2 separate regions of the Homo sapiens genome follow, and region 2 is linked to region 1. The links come from fine-mapping of genetic effects on plasma protein levels. Region 1 holds a variant in brackets. A gene starts in the other region. All regions are shown on their forward strands.

Region 1 (17,365 bases):
CATCAGGTGCTCATCACGTGTTTTCGAAGGCAGTTGATTGCTTGAACCAGGCTAGAAGGTGATGTACAGAGTGTCTAGAAATGAGTTAAGTGTGAGGTTGAGATGAGGTAGGGCACACGAGGTGGAGAAATAAAGAGAGGGAAGGGCAGGCCAGGGAGAGGGCGTGGTGTGAGCAGAGGTACCGCAGCAGGACATAGCCTGGCGTGCGGGGCTCTCAAACAGTGAGGCTGCCGGCTGAGCCCAAGCTCCAGGCATGGGGCGGTAAGCCAAGAGATGGTAACTAGGGTTGGCGCGACAGATGTGGAGAGTAGGTGACAGACTCAACTGAGGTCCTAGAGGTGGAATCCATGGGGGTGGTTATTGGAGTAGGGGGGTGGCGGGGATGGCGCCCAGTACCCTGGCTCACGACTGGGTGGCTGGTGGAGACACAGAGGAGGAGTTGGGGGTGGGGGTGGGGAGCACTATGCTCAATGTTGGACCCTCCGAGTGGGACGTGGGGCATTGGGGGAGATGCCCAGGAGGCCCTGTGGTCTGGAGAAAGGTCCAGGCTGGAGAAGGAGCAAGGACACAGCTGGCAAGGGGGCGCCTGAGGCCGTGGAGTGGACAGAAGCCGAGGAGGAGGGGGACTTCACCCTGAGCTTACAGCTCCTTGCATAACTTAATTGCCAATATGATTAAACATGTAAATAATTATTTAAAAATAAATATATTTAGAAACTTAAAATTTGGATTCAGGAACATTTTAAAGAAAAAGCACAGATGGCCGGGCGGGGTGGCTCACGCCTGTAATCCCAGCACTTTGGGAGGCCGAGTCAGGCAGATCACGAGGTGAGGAGATCGAGACCATCTTGGCTAACACGCTGAAACTGCATCTCTACTAAAAATACAAAAAATTAGCCGGGCGTGGTGGGGGGCGCCTGTAGTCCCAGCTAATCGGGAGGCTGGGCAGGAGAATGGCGTGAACCTGGGAAGCGGAGTTTGCAGTGAGCCGAGATCATGCCACTGCACTCCAGCCTGGGCGACAGAGCGAGACTCCGTCTCAAAAAAAAAAAAAAGAAAAAAAAGGAAAAGCACAGACATAACAGTGAATTGCACATTGCCTTTCCCAAATATGCTCACATTATGTTCTGAAAAGTTCCCTCTGCTCCCTGCCCACTCCATCCCACTCCCCAGGGAGTAACTGATTTCTCTTTCCAGCATGGTCCAAAGGGCTTGTCAGGGGTTTGCTGTCAAGTGAGTGATGTAAACCCTCCCCTCCACTAGCCCCAGTAGGCATCTGTAGTGTTCACTGCTCACTGGCATGTTTCAGGATAAACTCTTTTGTGGAAACAAGAAAAGGAGAAAAGGAGCTTGGGCCTGTGTTGCTGGGAGTTCACTTGAGGGCCCCTGGAGCTAGAGAAGGTGGGACAAACTGTTATCTACATCACACAGCCCTCCTCAGAGGGGTGTCCTATTGTCCTCATTTTACAGAGTTGGCGACTGAGGATCAGAGAGGTGACTCTCCTAAGGCCATGGAACTGATGAGTGGCCGAGCTTGGATTCAAACCCAGGTCTGCCCAGCTTCAAAGCCCAGGCTCTTGCTCCTATTTTTAGGAGAAGATACAGACCAAGTTTATTTTACATAGGATTCAGAGATTCAGGATCCTGGAGTTCTAGTGACCATTTGACAGATGGAGAGACTGAGGCATAACCAGGGCTAGAACCCAGGCCTACTGCCCCTGAGTCTGAAGTTTTGACCATCAGCAATCATTCAGGGTGAAGGGATCTTGCAGGAAAGATGACAACTTGACGGGGCCAGGGTTCAGAGGTGTGTGCAGATGGGAGGTTCAGAAGCTTCCCTAGAGGCTGCAGCCAATTCCCCCCACCTCTCCCCTCCATCCCCCACATAACACACTTGGCCCCCTGTGAACCCATGGTTCCTGCTCAGAGCAGGCGGCCAAAGCAGTGTCTTTGCTGCAAGCGAGGGACTGAGCTGTTCAACGAAGAGTCATGTCCTTCATCTTGTCCCCTGCATTTTACACCACCATGTAAAATTTTCCATTAATTCCTCGGAATAAAATGTAGTGGCTGTTAATTTTTGATGCCTGGGAAGTAGCCAGCTGAGCGCCTTTTTATGCCTGAAACTATTTTCTACCATTAGAAGAGTGTAATAAAAAGTTTTCTTTCTTTGATTTTATTTTTTAATTAGATGAGGGGGTTTAGGCAAGTCTGCTGTCAGAGCTGTGGCTGGCAGCTGGAAGCCCAGGACGTGGCAGAGGAAGGACACAAACACCTTCACTCTCAAATACCTTCCCCACAGCCAGGCCTCGCCTCTGAGCCAACCAGGGGGGCCAAGGTCTGGCCCAAATCATAAAAAACCCCGAATCTTCATTGCTTTTCCAGAAAGGCTGTTTGCGAGAAGTAGCATGCTTCTGCGAGAAGTTTCTGTCCTGGGCTTTGGCTTCATACAGACGTGTGAAATTCCTCCTCTGTGTCTCTGAGTCGAAGTCTTGGATCCTCAGCTTAATAGCTGAGGGACTTTGAGCAAGTCCCTTCCCCTCTCTGGGTTTCTCCTCTGTAAAAGCTCCCAGGGTTGTTGACTAAGGAGACATTGATTAAAGGAGAAATGGGTGTCAAGCATCTAGGCCATAGTAGATACCCTGGAAACAACGATGATGGGGGAATGTGTTTAAGAGGCGGGAAAATGCCGGGCATGGTGACTTATGCCTATAATTCCAGTGCTCTGGGAGGCTGAGACAGGAGGATCACTTGAGGCTAGGAGTTCATAGACCAGCCTGGGCAACATAGTGAGATCCTACTCTAATTTTTTTTTTTTTTTTTTTGAGACAGGGCCTCACTCTGTCATCCAGGCTGGAGTGCAGTGACATGATCTCAGCTCACTGCAATCTCCACCTCCCAGGCTCAAGTGATCCTCCCACCTCAGCCTCTCAAGTAGCAGGGACCACAGGTATGCACCACCACATCTGGCTAATTTTTTCTATTTTTTGTAGAGATGGGGTTTCGCCATGTTGCCCAGGCTGATCTTGAACTCCTGAGCTCAGGTTGATCCACCCACCTAGCCCTCCCAAAGGGCTGGAATTACAGGTGTGAGCCACTGTGCCTGGCCTACAAAATAAAAAAATAATTAACTGGGCATGGTAGTGCACCCCTGTAGTCCTAACAACTTGGGAGGCTGAGGTGGGAGGATTGCTTGAGCCCAGGAGTCAAGGCTGCAGTGAGTTATAATTGTGCCACTGCACTACAGCCTGGGTGACAGAGTGAGACCCTGTCTACAAAAAAAAAAGGAAGTGAGAAGGCTTCAGGCTTCTTCATGTTCCTTGATGGGGTTGTGGTGGGGCCGGGAGGAGCTGGGTCTAGGCTGGCAGGTGCAGGCAGAGATTTAGGGGAAGGCTGGGCGCAGCCTCACCTGCCTGCAGGAGGAGACCTGTGGGGGCAGGTCCTGCTTCGCCACTGGCACTTCCTCCTTTCAAGAGTGTGTGTTCCTCCTCTCTTCTGGGGGAATCGTCCCTGGCCGCTCCCCACTACCCCCTCGCCCGCTTTAGGATCCAGACGATGCCATCATCTCATTTCATACCCAGACTCCTGGGTCCATCCTTGCTGGGAATTTTTAAACTGGAGACAGGGAAGAGGAATCCCTTCCTCTCTGGTCATGTAGTCAGAAAGACAGGAGCCCAGAGCTACTGGTCACCATGCCCCCCACGCTCACCCCATGGAGAAGCCTTTCTGTGCAAAGACAGGAGGGCTAGGGACATGAAGAGAAGCAGAGTGTGAGGCTCAAATCTCATCAGCCTGGCGAGGCTATAACTCAATTAAATGCAAATCTCGGTGTTGCTGTGCAGGTGTTCTGTAGCTGTGCTTAACATCTACAATCAATTGACTCAAAGTAAAGGAGATCATCCCTGGTAATGTAGGTGGGCCTCATCCAATCAGTTGAAGGCCTCAAGAGCAAATCAGCTTCCCCAGAGAAGAAATTCTGCCTCAAGATTGCAGAATAAAATCCTGCGTGAGTTTCCAGCCCGGGGCCTGCCCTTCCAATTTCAGACTTGCAAACCCCCACAACTGTGTGAGCCAATTCCTTAAGAGAAATCTAGCTGTCTCCTTTCCGTGTCTTCTATTGATTTTGTTTCTCTGGAGAACCCTCACTAATACACAGAGGAAAGAAGGAAGAGAAGGAGAGGGGATCCTGACAGTGGGAGGCCCTGTTTCCTCTTGTCCTGGAGGCCACCACCTCATTTGTGCACCACTGGGTGGACACTGCCAGGGCCCTGCCCACTTGCCCTTGGGCTATGCCTTTGAGGTGGGGACTTCTTTTTTTCTTTTTTTTGAGACAGAGTCTCACTCTGTTGCCCAAGCTGGAGTGCAGTGGCGCGATATTGGCTCACTGCAAGCTCCGCCTCCCGGGTTCAGGCCATTCTTCTGCCTCAGCCTCCCTAGTAGCTGGGACTGCAGGCGCCCGCCACCACGCCTGGCTAATTTTTTGTACTTTTTTTAATTAGAGACGGGGTTTCACCGTGTTGGCCAGGATGGTTTTGATCTCCTGACCTCGTGATCCGCCTGCCTCGGCCTCCCAAAGTGCTGGGATCACCACCGCGGGTGCAGTGAGCCACCGCGCCCGGCCGAGTTGGGGACTTTCAATGCCTGCAGGCTTTCTCTGGCGGTCTCCCAGGGACGGGCCTGCCTGCTTCTCCTGCGCTCTCACCGAGGGGCCAACTGGACTTGCCTCCCAGAAGACGTCTGTCTGACCGCAAGAGTGGCAGTTGTGGGGGCGCTGGACGGACCAAACACCCTGTGCTCCGGCTTACAAACGGCGACGAGTCCATCAACCTCCTCTGGGTTAGAGTCCTAATTCGCAGCCCCCACCCACTGCTGAGCTCAGGGCTCTGGAAACTGACTGCCTGATTCAGCCAACAGGATACATGGTGCTGGAGCCTGTGCTGATGAGCCCATTAGGGGAAATGGGGGCTCCCAGGCACGATGAGCTATTCCAGGTCATCTCACCAAGCCTGGGCCCGAATACTCCCATGGAGCCCAGTGAGGAGGGCAGCGGGACGCTACACTGACTTCTTCCCTTGCAAAGGTGCGGGGTGAATCTGTCTGGAGCAGGGCGGGCAGAAGACATCTTCCTAAGATGTCTTCCACGGGGAGCGGTGGGCCTCTGGGATGCCCAAGGTCTCTGCCATCACTCTCTGGTCTCTACACTTTCAGAGGGATCGTGGAGCACTGAATTGCATGGGATCTTAAGATTTCATCTACTCTGGGTGTTTTCAAAACTTTTTTTTTTTTTTAAGAGTTGGGGTCTCGCAGCCTGGCGCGGTGGCTCACGCCTGTAATCCCAGCACTTCGGGAGGCCGAGGTGGGTGAATCACAAGGTCAGGAGATCGAGACCATCCTGGCCAACACGGTGAAACCCCGTCTCTACTAAAAATACAAACATTAGCCGGGCATGGTGGCGGGCGCCTTGTAGTCCCAGCTACTTGGGAGGCTGAGGCAGGAGAATGGCGTGAACCCGGGAGGTGGAGCTTGCAGTGAGCCGAGTTTGCATCACTGCACTCCAGCCTGGGGGACAGAGCAAAATTCCGTCTAAAAAAAAAAAAAAAGAGAGATGGGGTCTTGCTTGTTGACCAGGCTGGAGCACAGTGGTTTGATCATAGCTCACTGCAGCCTGGAACTCCTGTTCTCAAATAATCCTCCTGCCTCAGCCTCCCAAGTAGCTGGGACTACAGTTGTGTGCCACCATAGCCAGCTCCAAATTTATCTTTAAAACTTGTTATAGGCCAGGCACCATGACTTATGCCTGTAATCCCAGAGTTTTGGGAGGCTAAGGTGGGCGGATTGTTTGAGCTAAGGAATTTGAGACCAGTCTGGGCAACATGGTGAAACCCTGTCTCTTCAAAAAAAAATAAATAAATAACATTAGCTTAGTATGGTGGTGCGTGCCTGTAGTCCCAGCTACTCAGGAGGCTGAGGTCTGATGATCACTTGAGCCTGGGAGGTCGAGGCTGCAGTGAGCCATGATTGCACCACTGCACTCCAGCCTGGGTGACAGAGTGAGACTGTGTCTCAAAAAAACAAAAACAAAAACAAAACTTGTTACAGAGCCCTTTCTCCAAGGAATATCTTACATCAAAGCCAGATATATAAGAGAAACCATGAGGGACCGACTCTATTTGAGGTGGGGAACTGGGAGACCCAGCTCTTTGATGGCTCCCTTCACTGTGGCTGTAAGACCCTTGGAGAGATCAAGTTCAGCCACCTCATTTTCCCAGTCTGCTTCCACCTGCCTAAAGTCACCCCCAAATCTGACACTACATGGCACATGTCAGTGGGATGCTCGAGGAATAAAAGCCACGTGGGTGTTCTGCTGTTGCTCACCAACCACACTGCAGTGCTGGGAGCCGTATCCTGGCAAGTGTTCAAGGTGGCGCTAGGGAACAGAGAAGGGGTTGTGAGGGTGTCGTGGGCACAGGCCCCGGAGGGACAGTGAGCTTAATAGGAGTGTGTGTGTGTGTGTGTGTGTGTGTGTGTGTGTGTGTGTGATGGTGGTGGTGGTGGTGCTGGTGGTGGTGTGGGGATTACAAACAGGAAGGAAATCTCATTAGATGGGCTGGGTCTTGGTCCAAAGACCAGATAAACTAGGATGTCACAGGTGGGGACAGAGTCCAAGATTCAATGTCTTCAGAACTCTCCTGATCAATAGTTATGAGATTCCATGATTCACAAAGACAGGGACCATGTTTCATTTATTTAACACATATTTATTTACCTCTTTCAAACAACAAGCTGGGGGAACCGATCTTACTGATTTAGTTAGCATCTATGGGAAAGCTGTGGTGTCAATCAGGGCTCTTTTGGTTGAAAATGAGAGAACATTATAACTCATTCCCCGTCCCTCAATGAATTGGGACTTTGTGGGCACCTGAAACTGAAAAGTTCAGGAGTATCTTCAGGTTGAACTTGATCAAAGACTCAAATAACATGACCAAGATGGGATTCACTTCTCTATCTCTTTAATCATTTTCCTTCTTGTTGAAGCACATCCTTTAATCTTTTGGTGAGGGCCTGTGGGTAGTAAACTCTAAATCATGTATATCTGGAAATATATATATATATATATATTTTTTTTTTTTTTTTTGAGACAGAGTCTTGCTCTATTGTCCAGGCTGGAGGGCAGTGGCACAACCTCCACCCACTGGGTTCAAGCTATTTTCATGCCTCAGCCTCCTGAGTAGCTGGGACTATAGGTGTGCACCACCACACCCAGCTAATTTTTGTATTTTTAGCAGAGACAGGGTCTCGACTTGTTGGCCAGGCTGGTCTTGAACTTCTGGCCTCAAGTGATCCACCCACCTCAGCCTCCCAAAGTGCTGGGATTACAGGCATGAGCCACCACGCCCAACCTGGAAATATGTTTTGATCTCACTCTTCAGTGACAGTTTAGCTAGGTATAGAATTCTAG[G/A]CTGACAAGTATTTTTTCACTGTGTTTGGAGATATTAGTCTACTCCTTTCTGGCTCCTATTGTTGCTAATTAGAAGTCTATTTTTTAGTCTAATTGTTTCTTTGAAAGGAATCTGTCTTTCCCACCCTTCTGGCAGCTTCAAAAGTTTTCTCTTTACCCTTAAAGTTGTCCAAGTGCAATTAGACATGCCTAAGCGTAGATTTTATTTATTTGTTTATTTTTGAGACAAGATCTGGCTCTGTCACCCAGACTGGATCGCAGTGGCATAATCATAGTTCACTGCAGCCTTGACCTCCTGAACTCGGGTAATCCTCCTGCCTCAGCCTCCCAAGTAGCTGGGACCACAGGCACATGCCACCACACCCAGCTAATTTTAAAATTATTTGTAGAGACAGAGTCTCCCTATATTGTCCAGGCTGGTCTTGAACTCCTGGACTCAAGTGATCCTCTTGCCTTGGCCTCCCAAAGTGCTGAGATTACATGTTTGAGCCACTGCACTCAGCCTAGATTTATTTTTATCCCACTCTGAACTATGGCTTTTCTCTGTGAAGACAGTGCTTTCTTCAATTTGAAAAATTCTTATATATTATATTTTACTATATTTTATTTTATTTTATTTTATTTTTTTGAGACAGAGTCTCACTCTGTCACCCAGGTTGGAATGCAGTGGTGTGATCTCAGCTCTCTGCAACCTCCGCCTCCTGTCTCAGCCTCCTGAGTAGCGGGGATTACAGGTGCCCGCCACCATACCTGGCTAATTTTTGTATTTTTTAGTAAAGACAGGGTTTCATCATGTTGGCCAGGCTGGTCTCGAACTCCTAACCTCAAGTGATCTGCCTGCCTCAGCCTCCCAAAGTTCTGGGCCATGCCTGGCCCCTATTATAGTTTCCTTTATTGCTTTTCCCACATCCTCTTTACTGTCTCTTATTGGAATTCCTATTCCTGTTGTACATCCTATTAGATATATAATGGATCATTTCATTTCATCCTCCATCTTAACTTCCCCTTTATGTTTCACATTTCTTTATCTCTCTCTGTGCTGTATTCTGGGCGAACACCTCTGATAGGTGTTCTATAGCCCCCAATACTTCTGAGTGTGATTATATTGGAGATAGGGTCTTTGAAGAGGTGACTAAGTTAAAATGAGGCTATCAGGGTGGCCCCTAATGCAATCTGACTGGTGTCCCTATAAGAGGAAATGTGGATGCACCAAGGGGCAGGAAGGATGAGCATGCGCAAGGGAGACCATGTGAGGACACAGCAAGGAGGTGGCCGTCTGCAAGCCAAAGAGCAAGACCTCCGATAAAACCAAACACCAGCACCCTGATCTGGGACTTCTAGCCTCCAGAACTGAAAGTTAATAGATTGCTGTTGCTTAAGCCACTCTACTGTTTTATTATGACAGGGCCAGTAAATGAATATGACAGACTACTGTCAAACCCACCTATTGAGTTTCTCTCTTTCTTTTTGCTTTGTTTGTTTTTTCAGTTTATCTTGGGTGACTTTTTTTTTTCTATGGCCCAGGGCAAGACACCCACTTCTAGGCTGCAGCCCAAGGTTATTGGGCAGTTTTTCCAGTCCCAAGAAGAAACAGCTGACTTCCAGCTTTTTCCTGATGTAGGGAGCCTAGTTTCAGCTGGAGGGCTCTCACAGGGCCAGGAGCCTTGTCTTTCGTCCTCACAGAGGCATTCAAACCCCAGTGCCATTCAGAAGTCTGGATATGGCAGCCCCAGGTGACTTAGTGGCTCCATGAAGCTGCCAGGGACTTGGACACCTTTGATCTTCACATTTTAGCACCCTTGGGGTGCGGCTTTAACCCTCTTGTTGCACTTCCAGGCATCTCATCTCCAAATGCCCCATGTCTTCTGTCTTTTGTTTGCTTCTTTGTTTTGAGACAGGGTCTCACTCCATCACCCAGGCTGGAGTGCAGTGGTGTGATTACAGCTCACTGCAACCTCAACCTCCCAGGCTCAAGTGAACCTCCTACCTCGGCCTCCTGAGTAGCTGGGACTACAGGTGTGTGCCACCACACCTGGCTAACTTAATTTTTTTTTTTTTTTTGAGACAGTTTCACTCTTGTTGTCCAGGCTGGAGTGCAATGGTGAAATCTCAGCTTGCTGCAACCTCTGCCTCTTGGGTTCAAGCGATTCTCCTGCCTCAGCCTCCCGAGTAGCTGGGATTACAGGTATGTGCCACCACGCCCGGCTAATTTTGTATTTTTAGTAAAGACAGGGTTTCACCATGTTGGTCAGGCTGGTCTTGAACTCCCGACCTCAGGTGATCTACTGACCTCGGCCTCCCAAAGTGCTGAGATTACAGGCATGAGCCACCGCACCCGGAAATTTTTTTTTTTTTTTTTGTAGAGACAGGTCACGCTATGTTGCCCAGGCTGGTCTCAAACTCCTGAGCTCAAGCGATCCTCCTGCGTCTGCCTACAAAAGTGTTGAAACTACAGCCACAAGCCAACGCGCCCGGCCTTATGTGTTATCTCTTGCCACATAGTGGCCTCTGCTCCAAGGGAAGCGGGAAGAGTGAGTTTTTTCAGTGGTACCTTTCCTCCCCATCCTGAAAACAAATGTGATTCTCCTCCTAAAGAAGTAGAGCAAGTGGGTGTAGAGTTGTTAACATGCAATGTCTGCCACATAAAACATGATCCCCATTTTGGTGAGGAAATCACAGCCTGGAGAGGTGTGGTGATTTACACAGCCTGGATTCGATTGCACTGAGCCTGCCCCACCCTCACCCTGCTCTGATTCAGGGACCCTGGCCTGGCCCTCATCTTTGGTGGTTGCTGTCGTCAAGGCACTGGCCTTGCGTGATGGATGAGCAGGCAGCCTCATTAAACACAAACCCTTGTTGGTTTCCCAAAGCCCACAGGAGCAGCGAGGCCCGGGATCTGGGAGCAGGGAAGCTGAACAGGACCCCATCTGTCCTGTTCCCTCCGGCTTCTGCTCAAACAGGCATTTGTCTGCCATGGCAAGAGGGCAGCCTCAGACACTTCATCTCTGGGCAATTAGGGGGCTGCACGTGAGAAGAGTAATGACTGGCCAGAGGGGATTTATCAGGGGCCAGTGTGGCTGGGCGGGGCTCAAGATTTGACATCCACCTCTTTTCCGAGGGGAAGGAGCTGGTTAGCATCCCTGCCTGGCAGTGGAGCCTCGTTAGCTCTGCCTTCTACTGTCCCTTCCCCCTCCAACGCTCTGCTCCCCACCCCACCTCCTTGTCTCTGCCCTAGATCAGAGGCCAGGCACTAGCTGGATGGTCACACCTGCCTCCTCCATGCTGCCCCCTGTGAACCACTCTCCGCACTGGCTGCTCACAAGTCTGATCACGTCACACACCTCCTCCCTACCTTTAAATCCTTCCATGGCTCCCTACTGCCCAAATCATAAGCAGCTGTTGTGTTCGGGTGGTCCTAGGTGACCAGCTTCCCCACGAGCGATTTCTCTCCTTTGGTTTGATTCGTGTCAAAGATGAGTCTTAGACACTGCCTGATGCTCAAACGGTTTATCCTTTTCTTAAAAAAAAAAAAGATGGGATCTTGCTGTGTTGCCCAGGCTGGTCTTGAACTCCTGGCCTTAACCCATCTTCCTCCCTTGGCCTCCCAAAGTTCTGAGTTACAAGCATGAACCATGGTGCCCGGCCTCAAGTGATTTATTTTGGCTGTGCTGTTACGAGACAGACATCAATGACACGGGCCAGATACACTTAGGAGGTCAGAGGACCAGCTGACCAGGAGGGTCTCTGTGTAGAGACCATCCTCAGAGTTTGGGGGATCCTTCTCCCTTCCCTAGACCTGGGTTCAGTCTAGGTTAGTCGCCAGGTGTTTCTTTCAAAAAAGAAGTTTAAGCTATTCTTGTAAGGGGAAGCTTTGTTTCAAGGTTTATGAAAGTTGCATCTGTGCTGAGGTGGTCTTGTTTTCTGGAAATCCCCTGGCCAGGGTTGGAAATCCTGGGGCCAGGCTGTATCAACTGCTAAGTGACACCTGGTGTCCGGCCTGTGAGATGCTTAAGTGGGTCCTATGGCTCTTGTTAATCTCACAGTTGCAGTATGTCTCTTTTTATACTATGACAGCAACCTCAGCCCTGGTGACCTCAGCTCCCGCGCCGCATCCTCTGTACTCTTGCTCTTCAATTTTTAAGAATGAGTTTCATGATTATGGGTTTCAAAAATTACATTCAGGACTGCGTGTGGTGGCTCATGCCTATAATCCCAGCACTTTGGGACGCCAAGGTGGGTGGATCACTTGAGGTTAGGAGACCAGTCTGGTCAACATGGTGAAACCCTGTCTCTACTAAAAAAAATAAAACTTAGCAGGGCGTGATGGTGCACACCTGTAATTCCAGCTACTCAGGAGGCTGAGGCAGCAGGATCACTTGAATCTGGGAGGTGGAGGTTGAAGTGAGCCGACAACATGCCACTGCACTCCAGCCTGGGTGACAGAGTGAGACTCCATCTCAAAACAAAAACAAAAACAAAAACAATTCAAAAGGCACACAGTAAAACAAGGCTAACTCCTGCATCGTCCTCACCTGCCTAGTCCCCATCACCTGCCACATGCCTTAGTTCCTTGTGTATCCTTCCAGTTTCTTTATGCAAATGTAAATAGGACAAATATGTCGTCATATTTACCACCCCCACACATGCTTTATATACAAATGGTAGCTTATCAGGAACGTGGTTCTATACTTTCATTTTTGCACTTAATACATCTTGGAGATCTTTTTGTATCTGCAGAGAGAAGGCTGCTTCATTCTCTGGTACAGCTTGACCATCATTTCCTTAGCCAGCTCCCAGGTAGTGGATGTTTGTGTGGCAGGTGCTGCTGCTGCCCTGTCCCATATCTCCCACCTACCAGAGCTCACCAGCAGCCCTTTCATTTCTCCAGGCTTTAGCCCACACAGGTCTCTCTGCCTGGGATATGCTTCTGCTTCTTCATCTCAAATCAAGAGTCTGGCAGCCCCGCCAGAGACACTAACCTAACTAGTTCAGGCAGGGCTAGCACTTTGGGCCTCAGGGTCTCCCTTACCTCCTCTGCCTCAGGAATGATCACAGTGGATTAAATCCTCTCCTTATCTGCCTGCCTGGCTGGGAGCACCTGGGCAGGGGTCAGAGCTGTGGGGGGGCAATGGGGAAGATGAGTCAGATTCATCACTATGTCCCAGCACCTCTTACCACATCCCATGGCCTCTAGTGAAGCAGGAGAAGGATTGTATAAAATCCAAACTCCTTCCCGTGGCCTACAAAGCCCTGCTGACCCCGTCCCTGCCTGCCATCACCCCCAACCTCAGGTCCAGCCAGTGTGGCCTTCTTGTTCCTCAGAGACCTCAAACTCGATCCTGCCTCAGGGCTTTTGTTCTTATACTTTCCTCTACTTGGACTCTCTTTTCCCCAGATCTCCTGATTAGACCTCAGCTCAAATGACACTTCCTCCAAGAGGCCTTCCCTGACCACCTTGACTAAAATATCCTACTCACCCCTGCCAACTTTGGGAACCCAAGGCAGGAAGATCAGTTGAGGCCAGGAGTTCAAGACCAGCCTGGGCAACATAGTGAGATCCCATCTTTGAAAAAAAAAAAAAAACACCCCCACTTTCTTAGCAGTTATGGGATGAATTGTGTCCTTCCCAAAGTTTATAGGTTGAAGCCCTAACCCCGAGTACCTCAGAATGTCACTGTGTTTGGAGATAAGGTCTTTAAAGAGGTGAATAAGTTAAAATGAGGCCAGTAGGGCTGGGTCTTAATCCAATCTGAGTGGTGTCCTTTTTGTTTGTTTGTTTGTTTGTTTTGTTTTGTTTTGTTTTTGAGACAGAGTCTTGCTCTGTCTCCCAGGCTGGAGTGCAGTGATGCGATCTTGGTTCACTGCAACCTCTGCCTCTGGGGTTCAAGCAATTTTCCTGCCTCAGTCTCCCGAGTAGCTGGGACTAACAGGCACGTGCCACCACTCCCGGCTAATTTTTTTTTTGTATTTTTGGTAGAGACAGGGTTTCACCATGTTGGCCAGGCTGGTCTTGAACTCCTGAGCTCGTGATCCACCCATCTCGGCCTCCCAAAGTGCTGGGATAACAGGCGTGAGCCACTGTGCCCGGCCTGGTATCCTTTTTAAAAGGGGGAAGCAACACAAGGGATGAGGGTGCACAGAGGGAAGGCCGTGTGAGGACATGGGGAGGAAAGCCGAGGAGGGAGGCCTCCAAGGAAACCCTGCGGGTGCCTTGGTCTTGGACTTGCTGCCTCTGGAACTGTGGGAAAATAAATTTCTGTTATTTGAGCCAGGGGTCCTCAATCCCCTGGCCATGGACCAGTACTGGTCCATGGCCTATTAGGAACCTGGCACACAGCAGGAGGTGAGTGGCTGGTGAGGGAGAGAAGCTTCGTCTGTATATACAGCCGCTCCCCATCACACGAATGGCTGCCTGAGCTCTGCCTCCTGCCAGATCAGCGGCAGCATTAGATGCTCACAGGAGTGTGAACCCTGTTGTGAACTGTTCATGCGGGGGATCTAGGTTGCATGCTCCTTATGAGAATCTAATGCCTGATGATCTGTCACTGTCTCCCGTGACTCTCAGATGGGACCATCTAGTCGCAGGAAAACAAGCTCAGGCTGGACCTGGTGGCTCACGCCTGTAATCCCAGCACTTTGGGAGGCCGAGGCAGGTGGATCACGAGGTGAGGAGTTTGAGGCCAGCCTGACCAACATGGTGAAACCCTGTCTCTACTAAAAATACAAAAATTAGCAGGGCACGGTGGTGAGCGCTTGTAATTCCAGCTACTCAGGAGGGTGAGGCAGGAGAATTGCTTGAACCCAGGAGGCGGAGGTTGCAGTGAGCCAAGATCGCGCCATTGCACTCCAGCCTGGGCGACAGAGAGAGACTTCGTCTCAAAAAAAAAAAAAAAAAAGGAACACAAGCTCAGGGCTCCCACTGATTCTACATTATGGTGAGTCATATAATTATTTCGTTGTATATTACAGTGTGGTAATAATATAAATAAAGTGTACAATAAATATAATATGAATCATCCCCAAACCATCCCCCCCACTATCCATGGAAAAACTGTCTTCCACGAAACCCGTCCCTGGTGCCAAAAAGGTTGGGACCACTGATTTAAGCTACCCAGTCTGTGGTACTTTGTTATGCAGCCTAAGCTGACTCTACATCTTCCAGCGCATTTCTTCCAATGCACTGTCTGACATGACTTGTTTACTGTCTGCCTCCCCGTACAAGGGCAAGTCATTTAATTGTCTTGCTCATGGTGTAGCCCCAGCTCCTACAACAGAGCCTGGTACATAGTAGGCACTCAATAAATACTCACAGGATGAATGAGCAAATGCCAATTCCATGAAGCAGAGAGTGTCATATGAAGATCCCCCCAACGCTCACAAGCACATGTGTGAATGCACCCACATGTGTGCTCAGACATGTACGTGGATAGCTGGGCGCTCACACACATGCATCCTGCCCTGCATCTTTGCCTCTGACCATGTCCACTTCATGGCAAGGGCCATGTACACAGCCTGCAGGCTCAGCGGATGGCATGACTGTGCCTGTTTCAAGCTGGCTGTGCCTCTGAGCTGCCCTCAGAAACCCACGCCTGGCGCTCCTGTCAGGAGTGTGCTTGGATGCTAGGCCTCCCAGAGGGGTCAGAAGATGGGGAAGAAGAATCTGTTTGCAAATGGAAATCAGAATAAGCTCTACCAGGCACAGAGAACAGGGAAGGCAGTGGGCAGAATATGAGTTTTCCCAGCCCCCCACTGGGGGTCAGAACAATCAGCGAGTTCCTTCTGTGCCAGCCACATGACAAGTACATTATGCCCTGTGAAGTGGTGGGTTATTCACTCCCATTTTACCGATGAGAACACAGGCTGGTGTATCCCAGCATTTTGGGAGGCCGAGGTGGGATGATTTCTTGAGCCCAGGAGGTCTGGTTTGCAGTGATCTGTGATTGTACCATAGCACTCCAGCCTGAGTGACAGAGTAAGTCCCTGTCTCTCTCTCTCTCTCTCTCTCTCTCTCTCTCTCTCTCTCTCTATATATATATATATATATATATATATATATATATATATATATATATATATATTTATGTACACACACACGGGATTGGAGAGACCAATTCAATACTCCCTCAGTATTTTTTTTTGAGATGGAGTCTCACTCTGTTGCCCAGGCTGGAATGAAGTGGCTTGATCTTGGCTCACTACAACCTCTGCCTCCCAGGTTCAAGTGATTCTCCTGCCTCAGCCTCCTGAGCAGCTGGGATTACAGGTCCCCCGCCACCACGCCTGGCTAATTTTTGCATTTTCATTAGAGACGGAGTTTCACCATGTTGGCAAGTCTGGTCTCAAACTCCTGACCTCAAGTGATCTGCCTGCCTTAGCCTCCCAAAGTGTCCCCCAGTATTTTATGGAGGCCCTAGGTATAACACTGATTGCTCACTTATTTTGTTGAAGCAGATGATATGGTGATTAAGAGCCTCAGCTTGGGAGCCAGACAGCCTGGGTTCAAATTCTTGCCCTGATAATTACTAGCTGTGTGATTTTGGGCAAATCACATCGCCTGTCTATGCCTTCCTTTCTTTATCTGTAAAATAGAGTTATAATGGTACCTACTTGCTTGAGTTAATACATGTACAGGGCTTCGAATGGGGCCTGGCATGTAGTAGGCACATTTCTTGAGCAATAAATGTTAGTCCTTATTCCTTATTTCTAATTGTATCAGGATGTTCCCACCGAATCCTGCTCCTCCTCCAGGGCTGTGCCAGCTGCCTCTCTTTCAGGCCAGACCTTGAACAATCTTTGCTGTAAGAAGGTATCACAAACTGGAAGGCTTACAGCTACAGGAGTGTATTCTGTTAGTGCTGGAGGCCAAAAGTCTGAAATCAAGGTGAGGGCCGGGCCTGCTCCCTCTGAAATCTTTCTTGCCTCTTCCTAGGGGGATCCTTCCTTGCCTCTGCCTAGCTCCTGGTGGTTTCCCAGCAATCCTCAGCGTTCCTTGGTGTGCGGGTGCGTAACTCCAGTCTCTGCCTTCCTCATCACAGGGCATTCTCCCTGACTTCACATAGCTGTCTCCTTAGAAGAACGCAGTTCTATCAGATTAGGGGCCCATTCTACTCAAGGATAGCCTCATCTTTAATTACTAATTAAACTTGCAAGGACACCATTCTCAAATCAGATCACATTCTGAGGTCCATATCTTTTTTTTTTTGAGGGGATTGGAGAGAACAATTCGACCCATAATAGCAAATCTCTCTTGTCCCTGGGGAAGCTGTGTCTTTAAAAAGAGCTAGATGGGGAATAAAGAGATTTCAAAGCCAACAAGAAAAATGGTCTTGAAGTGGATGCTCTGGTTCTCCGTGTCTCTGGTTTACTGGCTGGACTGAGCTCCCTGGGTAGTTTTATTCTCCGATCGCTGCCGTCACCCATATTCTGTCTTCCCTGTCCCTTCATGGGTTGTACGGACTGCCGATCACACTGGAGCATGAGGGAGTCCCGGCCAGTCTGGCCCAGTTGAAAGCCCCACCTCTCCTCTGGGTTAACATGGAGGAGGGAGGGCACAGGGAAAAGGTCTCTCCCCTAATAGCTTCCTGTTGGGGACTCCCTCACCTCTTGTGGCCAATGCCATCTCTCAGGCCATCCCTGACTGGCCATCAGGGATTTCTGTGTCATTAGGGCCGGATGGTGGCTCTGGCATGGGGTGCAGGTCCTTGGGGGATCCTTGGAGGCCTCTTTTCCTTGCATTCCCACAGCTGACTCTGTGTGCCCTCTTTTTCTCCCGTAGCTCCCCTTCCCTGCCTGTTTTCCTCTGGGCCCCCTTGCCTGGTCAGCAGCCCTCTTTGCTGGCAGAGCAGCAAGATGTCTCCCTCCCATGATGCCCTCTTGGCTCCTGGAAACCTCCCACTCCCTTGCTACCCA
Region 2 (7,649 bases), not on the chromosome of region 1:
TACCAAGCATTCTTTACCATTTTGGAAGTTAATGTCACCCATGGCAATGCTACATGAGTGAATGAAAATGTCTAACGCATATTAAGTTTAATATTAGCTTCCTGTCTAAGTGTATGCATTGTAAATAGGAATAATTGCCTAACTGCTTTCTTACATCATCTGTTTGAAGCTTTTACATACCAAAATACATATTTTTATACATTCTATCCTTATTATCCTTTTATAATACAGTTAGAGTTAGGACATTTTATTATTAATTTATTTTGAAAGCATGCACGTAGATGGGTTACATTATCAATTTTATTTCAAGAGAGTAAAAGGGCTGTTACAAAAAATTGTCGTAAGAAGGGAGTGTTGTTTCTGATAGCTATGAGAACACCTTTTGATGATCTCAGAGCCTCCTTCCAGCTCTGACTCTTTTGTATCTAAAAGTTAAATATTGTTTGTCCAAGGGGAACACCAAGACCTATTCTCCTCGTGGGAGCAAGAAGATGAAGTGGAGAGGAAGGTTTGAGTCCTTTCTCTCTATGTATCTGTCAGGCTATGCTGCAGTAACAAACAGCCCCCAATTCTTGGTGGTTGAAAACAACGAAACTTATTTCTCACTCATGAAAGATGTCTAGTGCTGGTCAGCGGGGGGCTTTTCTCTACAGAGTCACTCAGGGACCCAGGCTGGTGTGGGCTCTGCCATTTTGCAATGTTGCCATCTCAGGACAGCAGAAGAGAAGAGAGCACTAGAAAGTGTGGCTCCTGTAATAAGATGATTTCACCTGGAAATTACACCAGTCATGTTTGTTCAGAATCCACTGACCAGAATGAGTCACATGACACCCCCTAATTTTAAGAAGACCCAGTGATAACCCGCTCACTAATATACCCTGAATTGCCTGCCTTCCTTTCTCTGGCTCGCTTCCCCACTCCCTACTTCCTGATGCCCTCTGGGATCACTTTCCAAATAAATTATATGCACCTGAACTTGTTGTCTTAGCGTCTGCTTCTGGTAGAGCCCAAATGAAGACACCCCTGCTCTTTATCATTAATTAATTCAGTCTGTCAATACGTATTTTCTGAGCACCTACTATGTGCTAGATCCTATGTAGGCACTGGGGGCACGAAGATGACTGAGCCATGGCTCAGCTCTCCACGACCTAGCTCATTGGCTAGATGAGCAAACTACCCAGGTCACATCAAAAGCCTTTGCTTTTGGGCCAGGTGCAGTGGCCCATGACTGAAACTCAAGTACTTTGGAAGGCCAAGGCAGAAAAATTGCTTGAGGCTTGGAGTTCGCGACCTACCTGGACAACACAGTAAGACCCTATCCCTAAAAAATTTTTTTAATTAGCTGTGCACAGATGTGAAAACCTGTAGTCTGAGCTACTCAGGAGGCTGAGACAGGAGGATCACTTGAGCCCAGCAGTTGGAGCCTGCATTGAGCTGTGATAGCACCACCATGCTCCAGCCTGGGCAGCAGAGCAAGACCCTATCTCAAATTTTTAAAAAGGCAAAACATTTTGAGATCATAGGAACCTATGGGCTGTAAGTTGCACCAAGGTGGGGACCCTATCTGTATTGCTCCCCACTGAGTTCATAGTTGACACATTTGCTTGAAGTAGAAATGAATAATGAATTAGTAGAAAGAAACAGGCAGGTTGCTGACGGTCTCTGTCTTGGCACCTACTTTGAGTGTGGGAGTGAAAAGAAATAAAAAGTCTTTTAAAACATTGCCATCCACACAGATGTAATAATAATGAATAGCATAAAAGCTATAGTTACTGAGCGCTTTCTATAATATTTGTAAGAGCCGCTACTGAGGGCTTCACATGATTGGCTCATTTACAAAGGGTATAATTACAAATACTATAATGTCCATGGGCCAAAATATTTAATTCTTCGCAAGTGTGGGAAACTGAGGTAAGAGAAGAGAAGTAGGCTAGGCTGAAGGTTTTGGAGTCTACAAATCCTGATCTCTGAGTTCAAATCCCAGCTCTACCACTTCGTGGCTGTGAGCCTTTGGGCAAGAAAGTCTCCTCTCTGAGCCTCACTTTGCTTATCTGTAAAAATAGGAATAATAAACATCTCCCTAGCATGTTTTACCACTCCTATCAGCCAGTGAAAACCCTGACTGCTTCCTCAATGAGAATAATAGGTTGGTGCAAAAGTAAATGTGGTTTTTCCCATCAAAAGTAACGCCAAAACCCATGATTACTTTTGCACCAACCTAATACATGGTGCAGGGACCAAGTGTTGGGAACAGGCCCCCAAAATCTGGCCATAAACTGGCCCCAAAACTGGCCATAAGCAAAATCTCTGCAGCACTGTGACATGTTTGTGATGGCCATGATACCCACGCTGGAAGTTTGTGGGTTTACCAGAATGAGGGCAAGGAACACCTGGCCCGCCCATGGTGGAAAATCACTTAAAGGCGTTCTTAAACCACAAACAATAACATGAGCAATCTGTGCCTTAAGGATATGCTCCTGCTGCAGATAACTAGCCAGACCCATCCCTTTATTTCAGCCCATCCCTTTGTTTCCCATAAGGAATACTTTTAGTTAATCTATAATCTATAGAAACAATGCTTATCACTGGCTTGCTGTTAATAAATACATGGGTAAATCTCTGTTCGAGGCTCTCAGCTCTGAAGGCTATGAGACCCCTGATTTCCCATTCCACATCTCCATATTTCTGTGTGTGTGTCTTTAATTCCTCTAGCGCCACTGGTTAGGGTCTCCCTGACCGAGCTGGTCTTGGCACCAAGGACCTCATTTCTTATGGGGAAATTGAGGCCTGGAGAAGAAAAACTTCACTAAATTCCCAGAGCTCAGTAGGAAGCTTTATAGTTTAAAAGTTAAGAACGTTTATCTTGAAGTCAGACTGATGTAAGTTCAAGCACTGGTCCTACCACTTCCTGGCTGTGTGACCTCGAACAAGTTACTTAAGCTCTATGAGCCTTAGCTTCCTTATCTGTATTAGGGGACATTAATAATACCTACTTCAAAGATAGTTGTGAGGATTGAATTAATGGAACCAGACAGTTTCAGGGCTTAATCCATAAAGCCTAGTCCTACTACTCACTAGCTGTGCAAATTTGGGCAAGTGGCTTAGTCTCTCTGAGCCTCAATTTTCTCTTTTATAAAATGGAATGATCAATAAATACAATACTTACATCTTGAGTTTGTTGGGAGGATTAAAAAAAGATGAGTATGGACAGTGCCTGACTCATGTCAAGCTCTGATACAATCGAAATGTTAGGAATTCTTTCTTATTTATAAGGACACAGCCAGGTCTTGAATCCATTCATTTACTCAACAAATATTAACTGAGGTCTATTATGGGCTGACCTGTGTCCATAAAAGATATTCCAAAGTCCTAACCCCCAGTACCTCAGAATGTGACCTTCTATTTGGAAATAGGGTCTTTACAGAAGGAACCAATTTGAAACAAAGTCATCAGGGTGAAGTTGCCTAGTGAAGTCACCTAAGCCAACATGACTGGTATCCTTATAGGCACAGAAATTTAGACATAGAATCAGCCATGCACTAAGGGAAGATGATGTGAAGATACAGGGAGAAGACAGTCACGTGATTAAAGTGATGCACCTCCCATCCAAGGAACATGAACAATTACCGGCAAACACAAAGGGCTGGGAGAGACAAGGAAGGACCCTCACCTAGAACCCCTGGAGCAGGCATGGCCCTGCTGACAGCTTGATGTCAGGCTTCCAGCCTCCAGAATTACACAACAATAAACTTCTGGGGTTTTTTGGGGGACATTTTTGTGGTAAAATACTGCATAGCATAAAATTAACCATTTTAACCATTTTTAAGAGTACAGTTCAGTGGCATTGTTATGGGACCATCACCACTATCCATCCCCAGCTTTTCCATCATCCCAAACAGAAACTCTGTACCCATTAAACAATAACTCCCCATTCCCCGCTCCTCCCAGCCCCCAGTAACCTCTATTCTACTTCCAGTCTCCATGAATTTGCCTACCCTAGGTAACTTATGTAAGTGGAATCATACAATATTTGTCCTTTTGTGTCTGGTTTATTTCACTTTGCATAACATTTTCAAACCTCATCATGTTGGAGTCAGAATTTCCTTTCTTTTTAAGGCTGAATAATATTCCATTGTATGGATAGACCACATAGTGTTTATCCATTCATCCGTTGATGGACATTTGGGTGGTTTCCATCTTTCGGCTATTGTGAATAATGCTGCTATGAACATGGGTGTGTAAATATCTCTTCAATTCCCTGCTTTCAATTCTTTGGGGCACGTGCACAGAAGTGGAATGGCTGGCTCATATGGTAATTCTATGTTGGATTTTTTTTTTTTTTTTGAGACAGCCACACTGTTTTCCGTAGTGGCAACACCATTTTACATTCCCAATTTCTGTTGTTTTTAAGCCACTTAGTTTGTGACACTTTATTACAGCAGCCCTGGGATTTATTTTATGTTATTTATTTATTTATTTTCTTTGAGACAGAGTTTTGCTCTTGTTGCCTAGGTTGGAGTGCAATGCCATGATCTTGGCTCACTGCATCCTCTGCCTCGTGGGTTCAAGTGATTCTCCTGCCTCAGCCTCCCGAGTAGCTGGGATTACAGGCATGTGCCACCATGCCCGGCTAATTTTGTATTTTTAGTAGAGACGGGGTTTCTCCATGTTGCTCAGGCAGGTCTCGAGCTCCCAACCTCAGGTGATCCGCCTGGCTTGGCTTCCCAAAGTGCTGGGATTACAGGCGTGAGCCGCTGTGCCCGGCCAGCCCTGGGATTTTAAAACAAGTACCTACTATGCGTCAGGCACTGGGCTCTGGAGATACCATGGTAAACCAGGGGGACAACTTCTTTGCTTTTGTGGTGCTTATCTTCTCATTGGAAAGACAGAAAATAAATGAGTAACAGAATGTTGGGTAGTGATGAGTGCTGCAAAAGGAAAAGCCCAGCTAGGGGGCTGGGGCATGTGTGTGTAGTGTGTGTGCATGCGTGTGCATGCATATGTGCATTAAGAAAATGAGAGACAGGGGAAAGCAGGTATACTTGACCCAGTCTCCAAGCCTCAGATTGGATCAAGACACAGCCTGGGCTGCAAGGAAGGTGTGTGCACTAAAGAAACATGAGTAAAGGCCGGGCGCGGTGGCTCACGCCTGTAATCCCAGCACTTTGGGAGGCCGAGACGGGCGGATAATGAGGTCAGGAGATCGAGACCATCCTGGCTAACACAGTGAAACACCGTCTCTACTAAAAATACAAAAAATTAGCCGGGCGTGTTGGCGGGCGCCTGTAGTCCCAGCTACTAGGGAGGCTGAAGGAGGAGAATGGTGTGAACACGGGAGGCAGAGCTTGCAGTGAGCTGAGATCGTGCCACTGCACTCCAGCCTGGGCGACAGAGCGAGACTCCATCTCAAAAAAAAAAAAAATAGAAAAGAAATGTGAGTAAAGGCTGGGCACCCATGTGGCAGCGATGGGGCCAGTGGTAGGGATCTAAGAGCAACTCACTCTAGGACAGTGGTTAAGAAACAGGCCGGGTGCAGTGGCTCATGCCTGGAATCCCAGCACTTTAGGAGGCCAAGGTGGATGGATTGCCTGAGCTCAGGAGTTTGAGACCACCCTGGGCAACATGTCAAAACCCTGTCTCTAACAAGATACAGCAAAAAAAAGAATTTAGCTGGACCTGGTGGCGCACACCTGTAGTCCCAGCTACTGGTGAGGCTGAGGCAGGAGAATCGCTTGAACCTGGGAGGCAGAGGTTGCAGTGAGCCGAGATCACACCACTGCACTCCAGCCTGGGTGACAGAGTGAGATTCCATCTCAAAAGAAAGAAAGAGAAAGAAAGAAAGAGAGAGAGAGAGGGGGAGAGAGAGAGAGAGAGAGAGAGAGAGGGGAGAGAGAGAGAGAGAGAGAGAGAGAGAGAGAGAGAGAGAGAGAAGAAAGAAAGAAAGAAAGAAAGAAAGAAAGAAAGAAAGAAAGAAAGAAAGAAAGAAAGAGAAAGAAAGAAAGAAAGAAAAGAAAGAGAAACAGCCAGGGGCCTTGAGAATAAAATGCACTCTCCATAATTGGCCTCCCTGGCCCTGCAACATCAGGCCCTGCCCACCTTGGCCACCTGGCACAGGCCCTATTTGTCACATGTCATGCTTTAGCTTTGTTAACCTGTTTTCAGGTCTTCTTGAAATACACCATGCTGGTTCCTTGTATATGGACCCTTTCTGCTTGGAACTGTCCCCCCACCCTGTTCCCAGGCTTCCTCTTCTCCATCCCTGAGGGATGCGCTACCTCCCAGGAGCTTTTCTGAATGGCCTGGGCTGGCGTAGGTCCTCTTCCTGACACTCCCCTGGAACAGAGATTGTCACCAAGTGGATGCCCAACAAATATTTGTTGAATGAATAAATGGGTAGATGAATGAAGCCCAGACTCTGCCAAACCACCCTTCTTTACTTGTTCTTCCCCAGGCCCACTGAGATGTTCCTCTGTCTGCCATGCCTCACGGCCTGACTGACCGTACCAGTGAACCCAGCGTACCCCTGGCCCTGGCAGCCGGACGGCTGATGCATGCAAAGCGGGCATCTCCTTGCCCAGCCGCCTGACCGCCCTGGCGCGGCCGAATCTGAAAGCTAATGACATTATTGTGCAGAGACACAATGTCTGTGGGCATTTGCTGACCCGAGCTTTGGTGAGAGCTTAATCCAGCATTCTCACCCTGCTTTTCGCAGGAGCACAGCGGTCACTCATCTTGGCACCGGCACTTCTGGGGAAGGTATAAATGCCACCTCCCGCTGGCCGAGCTTCACGGCACTCGCAGGGGCTGGTGTCACTGGTAAGATTGCCTCTCTTGCTTGTCTTCCCTTCTTTCTCTCATCCTCACCCCTGTCCGCAAGCATGGGAGCACCCAGATTCTGACAAGTGACTTTGGGCAGAGACTTCAATGCTGTTAGCCTCAGTTTTCTTTTCTGGTAACTGGGAAGGGGGTTAAAAAGCCTTCTTTATTGTAAGGATTCAAGAGAAGTTAGGGGATCATCCAGCACAGTGCCTGGCACACAGTGGGCATTGGGGCAATGTTCTTTATTATTAATATTAAACAGACTATCAGCATCCTTGTTTCGCCAGTCGCTGAGGAGGAGAATGTAACTGAGGGTTTTGCAAGAATCAAACCAGTGACAGTTCAGCATTGTTTCTAGGTGGGTGAGTCAGTTTTCCTCCACATCTGCAATTAGGGGGCACCCACTCTGTGCCTAGCCTCTGGGAGTGCTAGGGGATAGGATGCAGCCACAGGTATGTGACAGGTCCCAGCAACAGGTGATTTCAATGCCACTAAAGCATGGTAGAAATGACTCTAATAATGCCACAATTGCTGCCATTTGCTGCATGCTGAGTGTGTTCTGGGACCACGGCCAAGTGCTTCCGGTTTTATACATTACATAATTGAATCCTCACAACCTGTTCACAGGTATTATTAGACATCATTACTGTCCCCATTTTATAGAACAGGAAGTTGAGGCATAGGGAGAGGATGAGACCTGCCCAGAGTCTCAATTCTGGCAGGCAGCAGAGACTGCTCCTGAACTGGACCAACTGAGCTTCTTCAGTCTGTGAACACTCAGGACTGGGAAGTGATATGGCAGGACCTCAGGCACTCTGACAAGCCCAGAG

Alleles and levels. Alleles are on the strand shown, and positions count from the first base shown. The strength of an association depends on the size of the effect and on how common the allele is.
For the plasma level of the protein whose gene starts at base 6,789 in region 2, A is the high allele of the variant in region 1 and G is the other (weak association).

Evidence for each region. A credible set is the group of variants that fine-mapping cannot tell apart. PIP is the chance, under the fine-mapping model, that this variant and not a neighbour inherited with it causes the effect. Protein levels are from antibody-based Olink assays in UK Biobank. Linkage for the fine-mapping came from a reference panel and not from the study's own genotypes, which makes the PIPs less certain.
Region 2: CRYBB2 starts here. The variant in region 1 is the best candidate, but not a certain one, in a credible set for the plasma level of the CRYBB2 protein (UK Biobank, PIP 0.77).

Annotation. Positions count from the first base shown.
Region 1 is chr20:33,871,916-33,889,280 of GRCh38, forward strand. No RefSeq gene overlaps it. Among named protein-coding and RNA genes, the nearest start is that of CHMP4B, 69 kb to the left of the region's middle. RefSeq lists enhancers at 11,288-11,407, 11,588-11,847. The variant G/A (reference allele first, on the strand shown) is at 7,457.
Region 2 is chr22:25,212,851-25,220,499 of GRCh38, forward strand. CRYBB2 (crystallin beta B2) reads left to right here and starts at 6,789. Exons shown (of 6, transcript NM_000496.3): 1 at 6,789-6,816.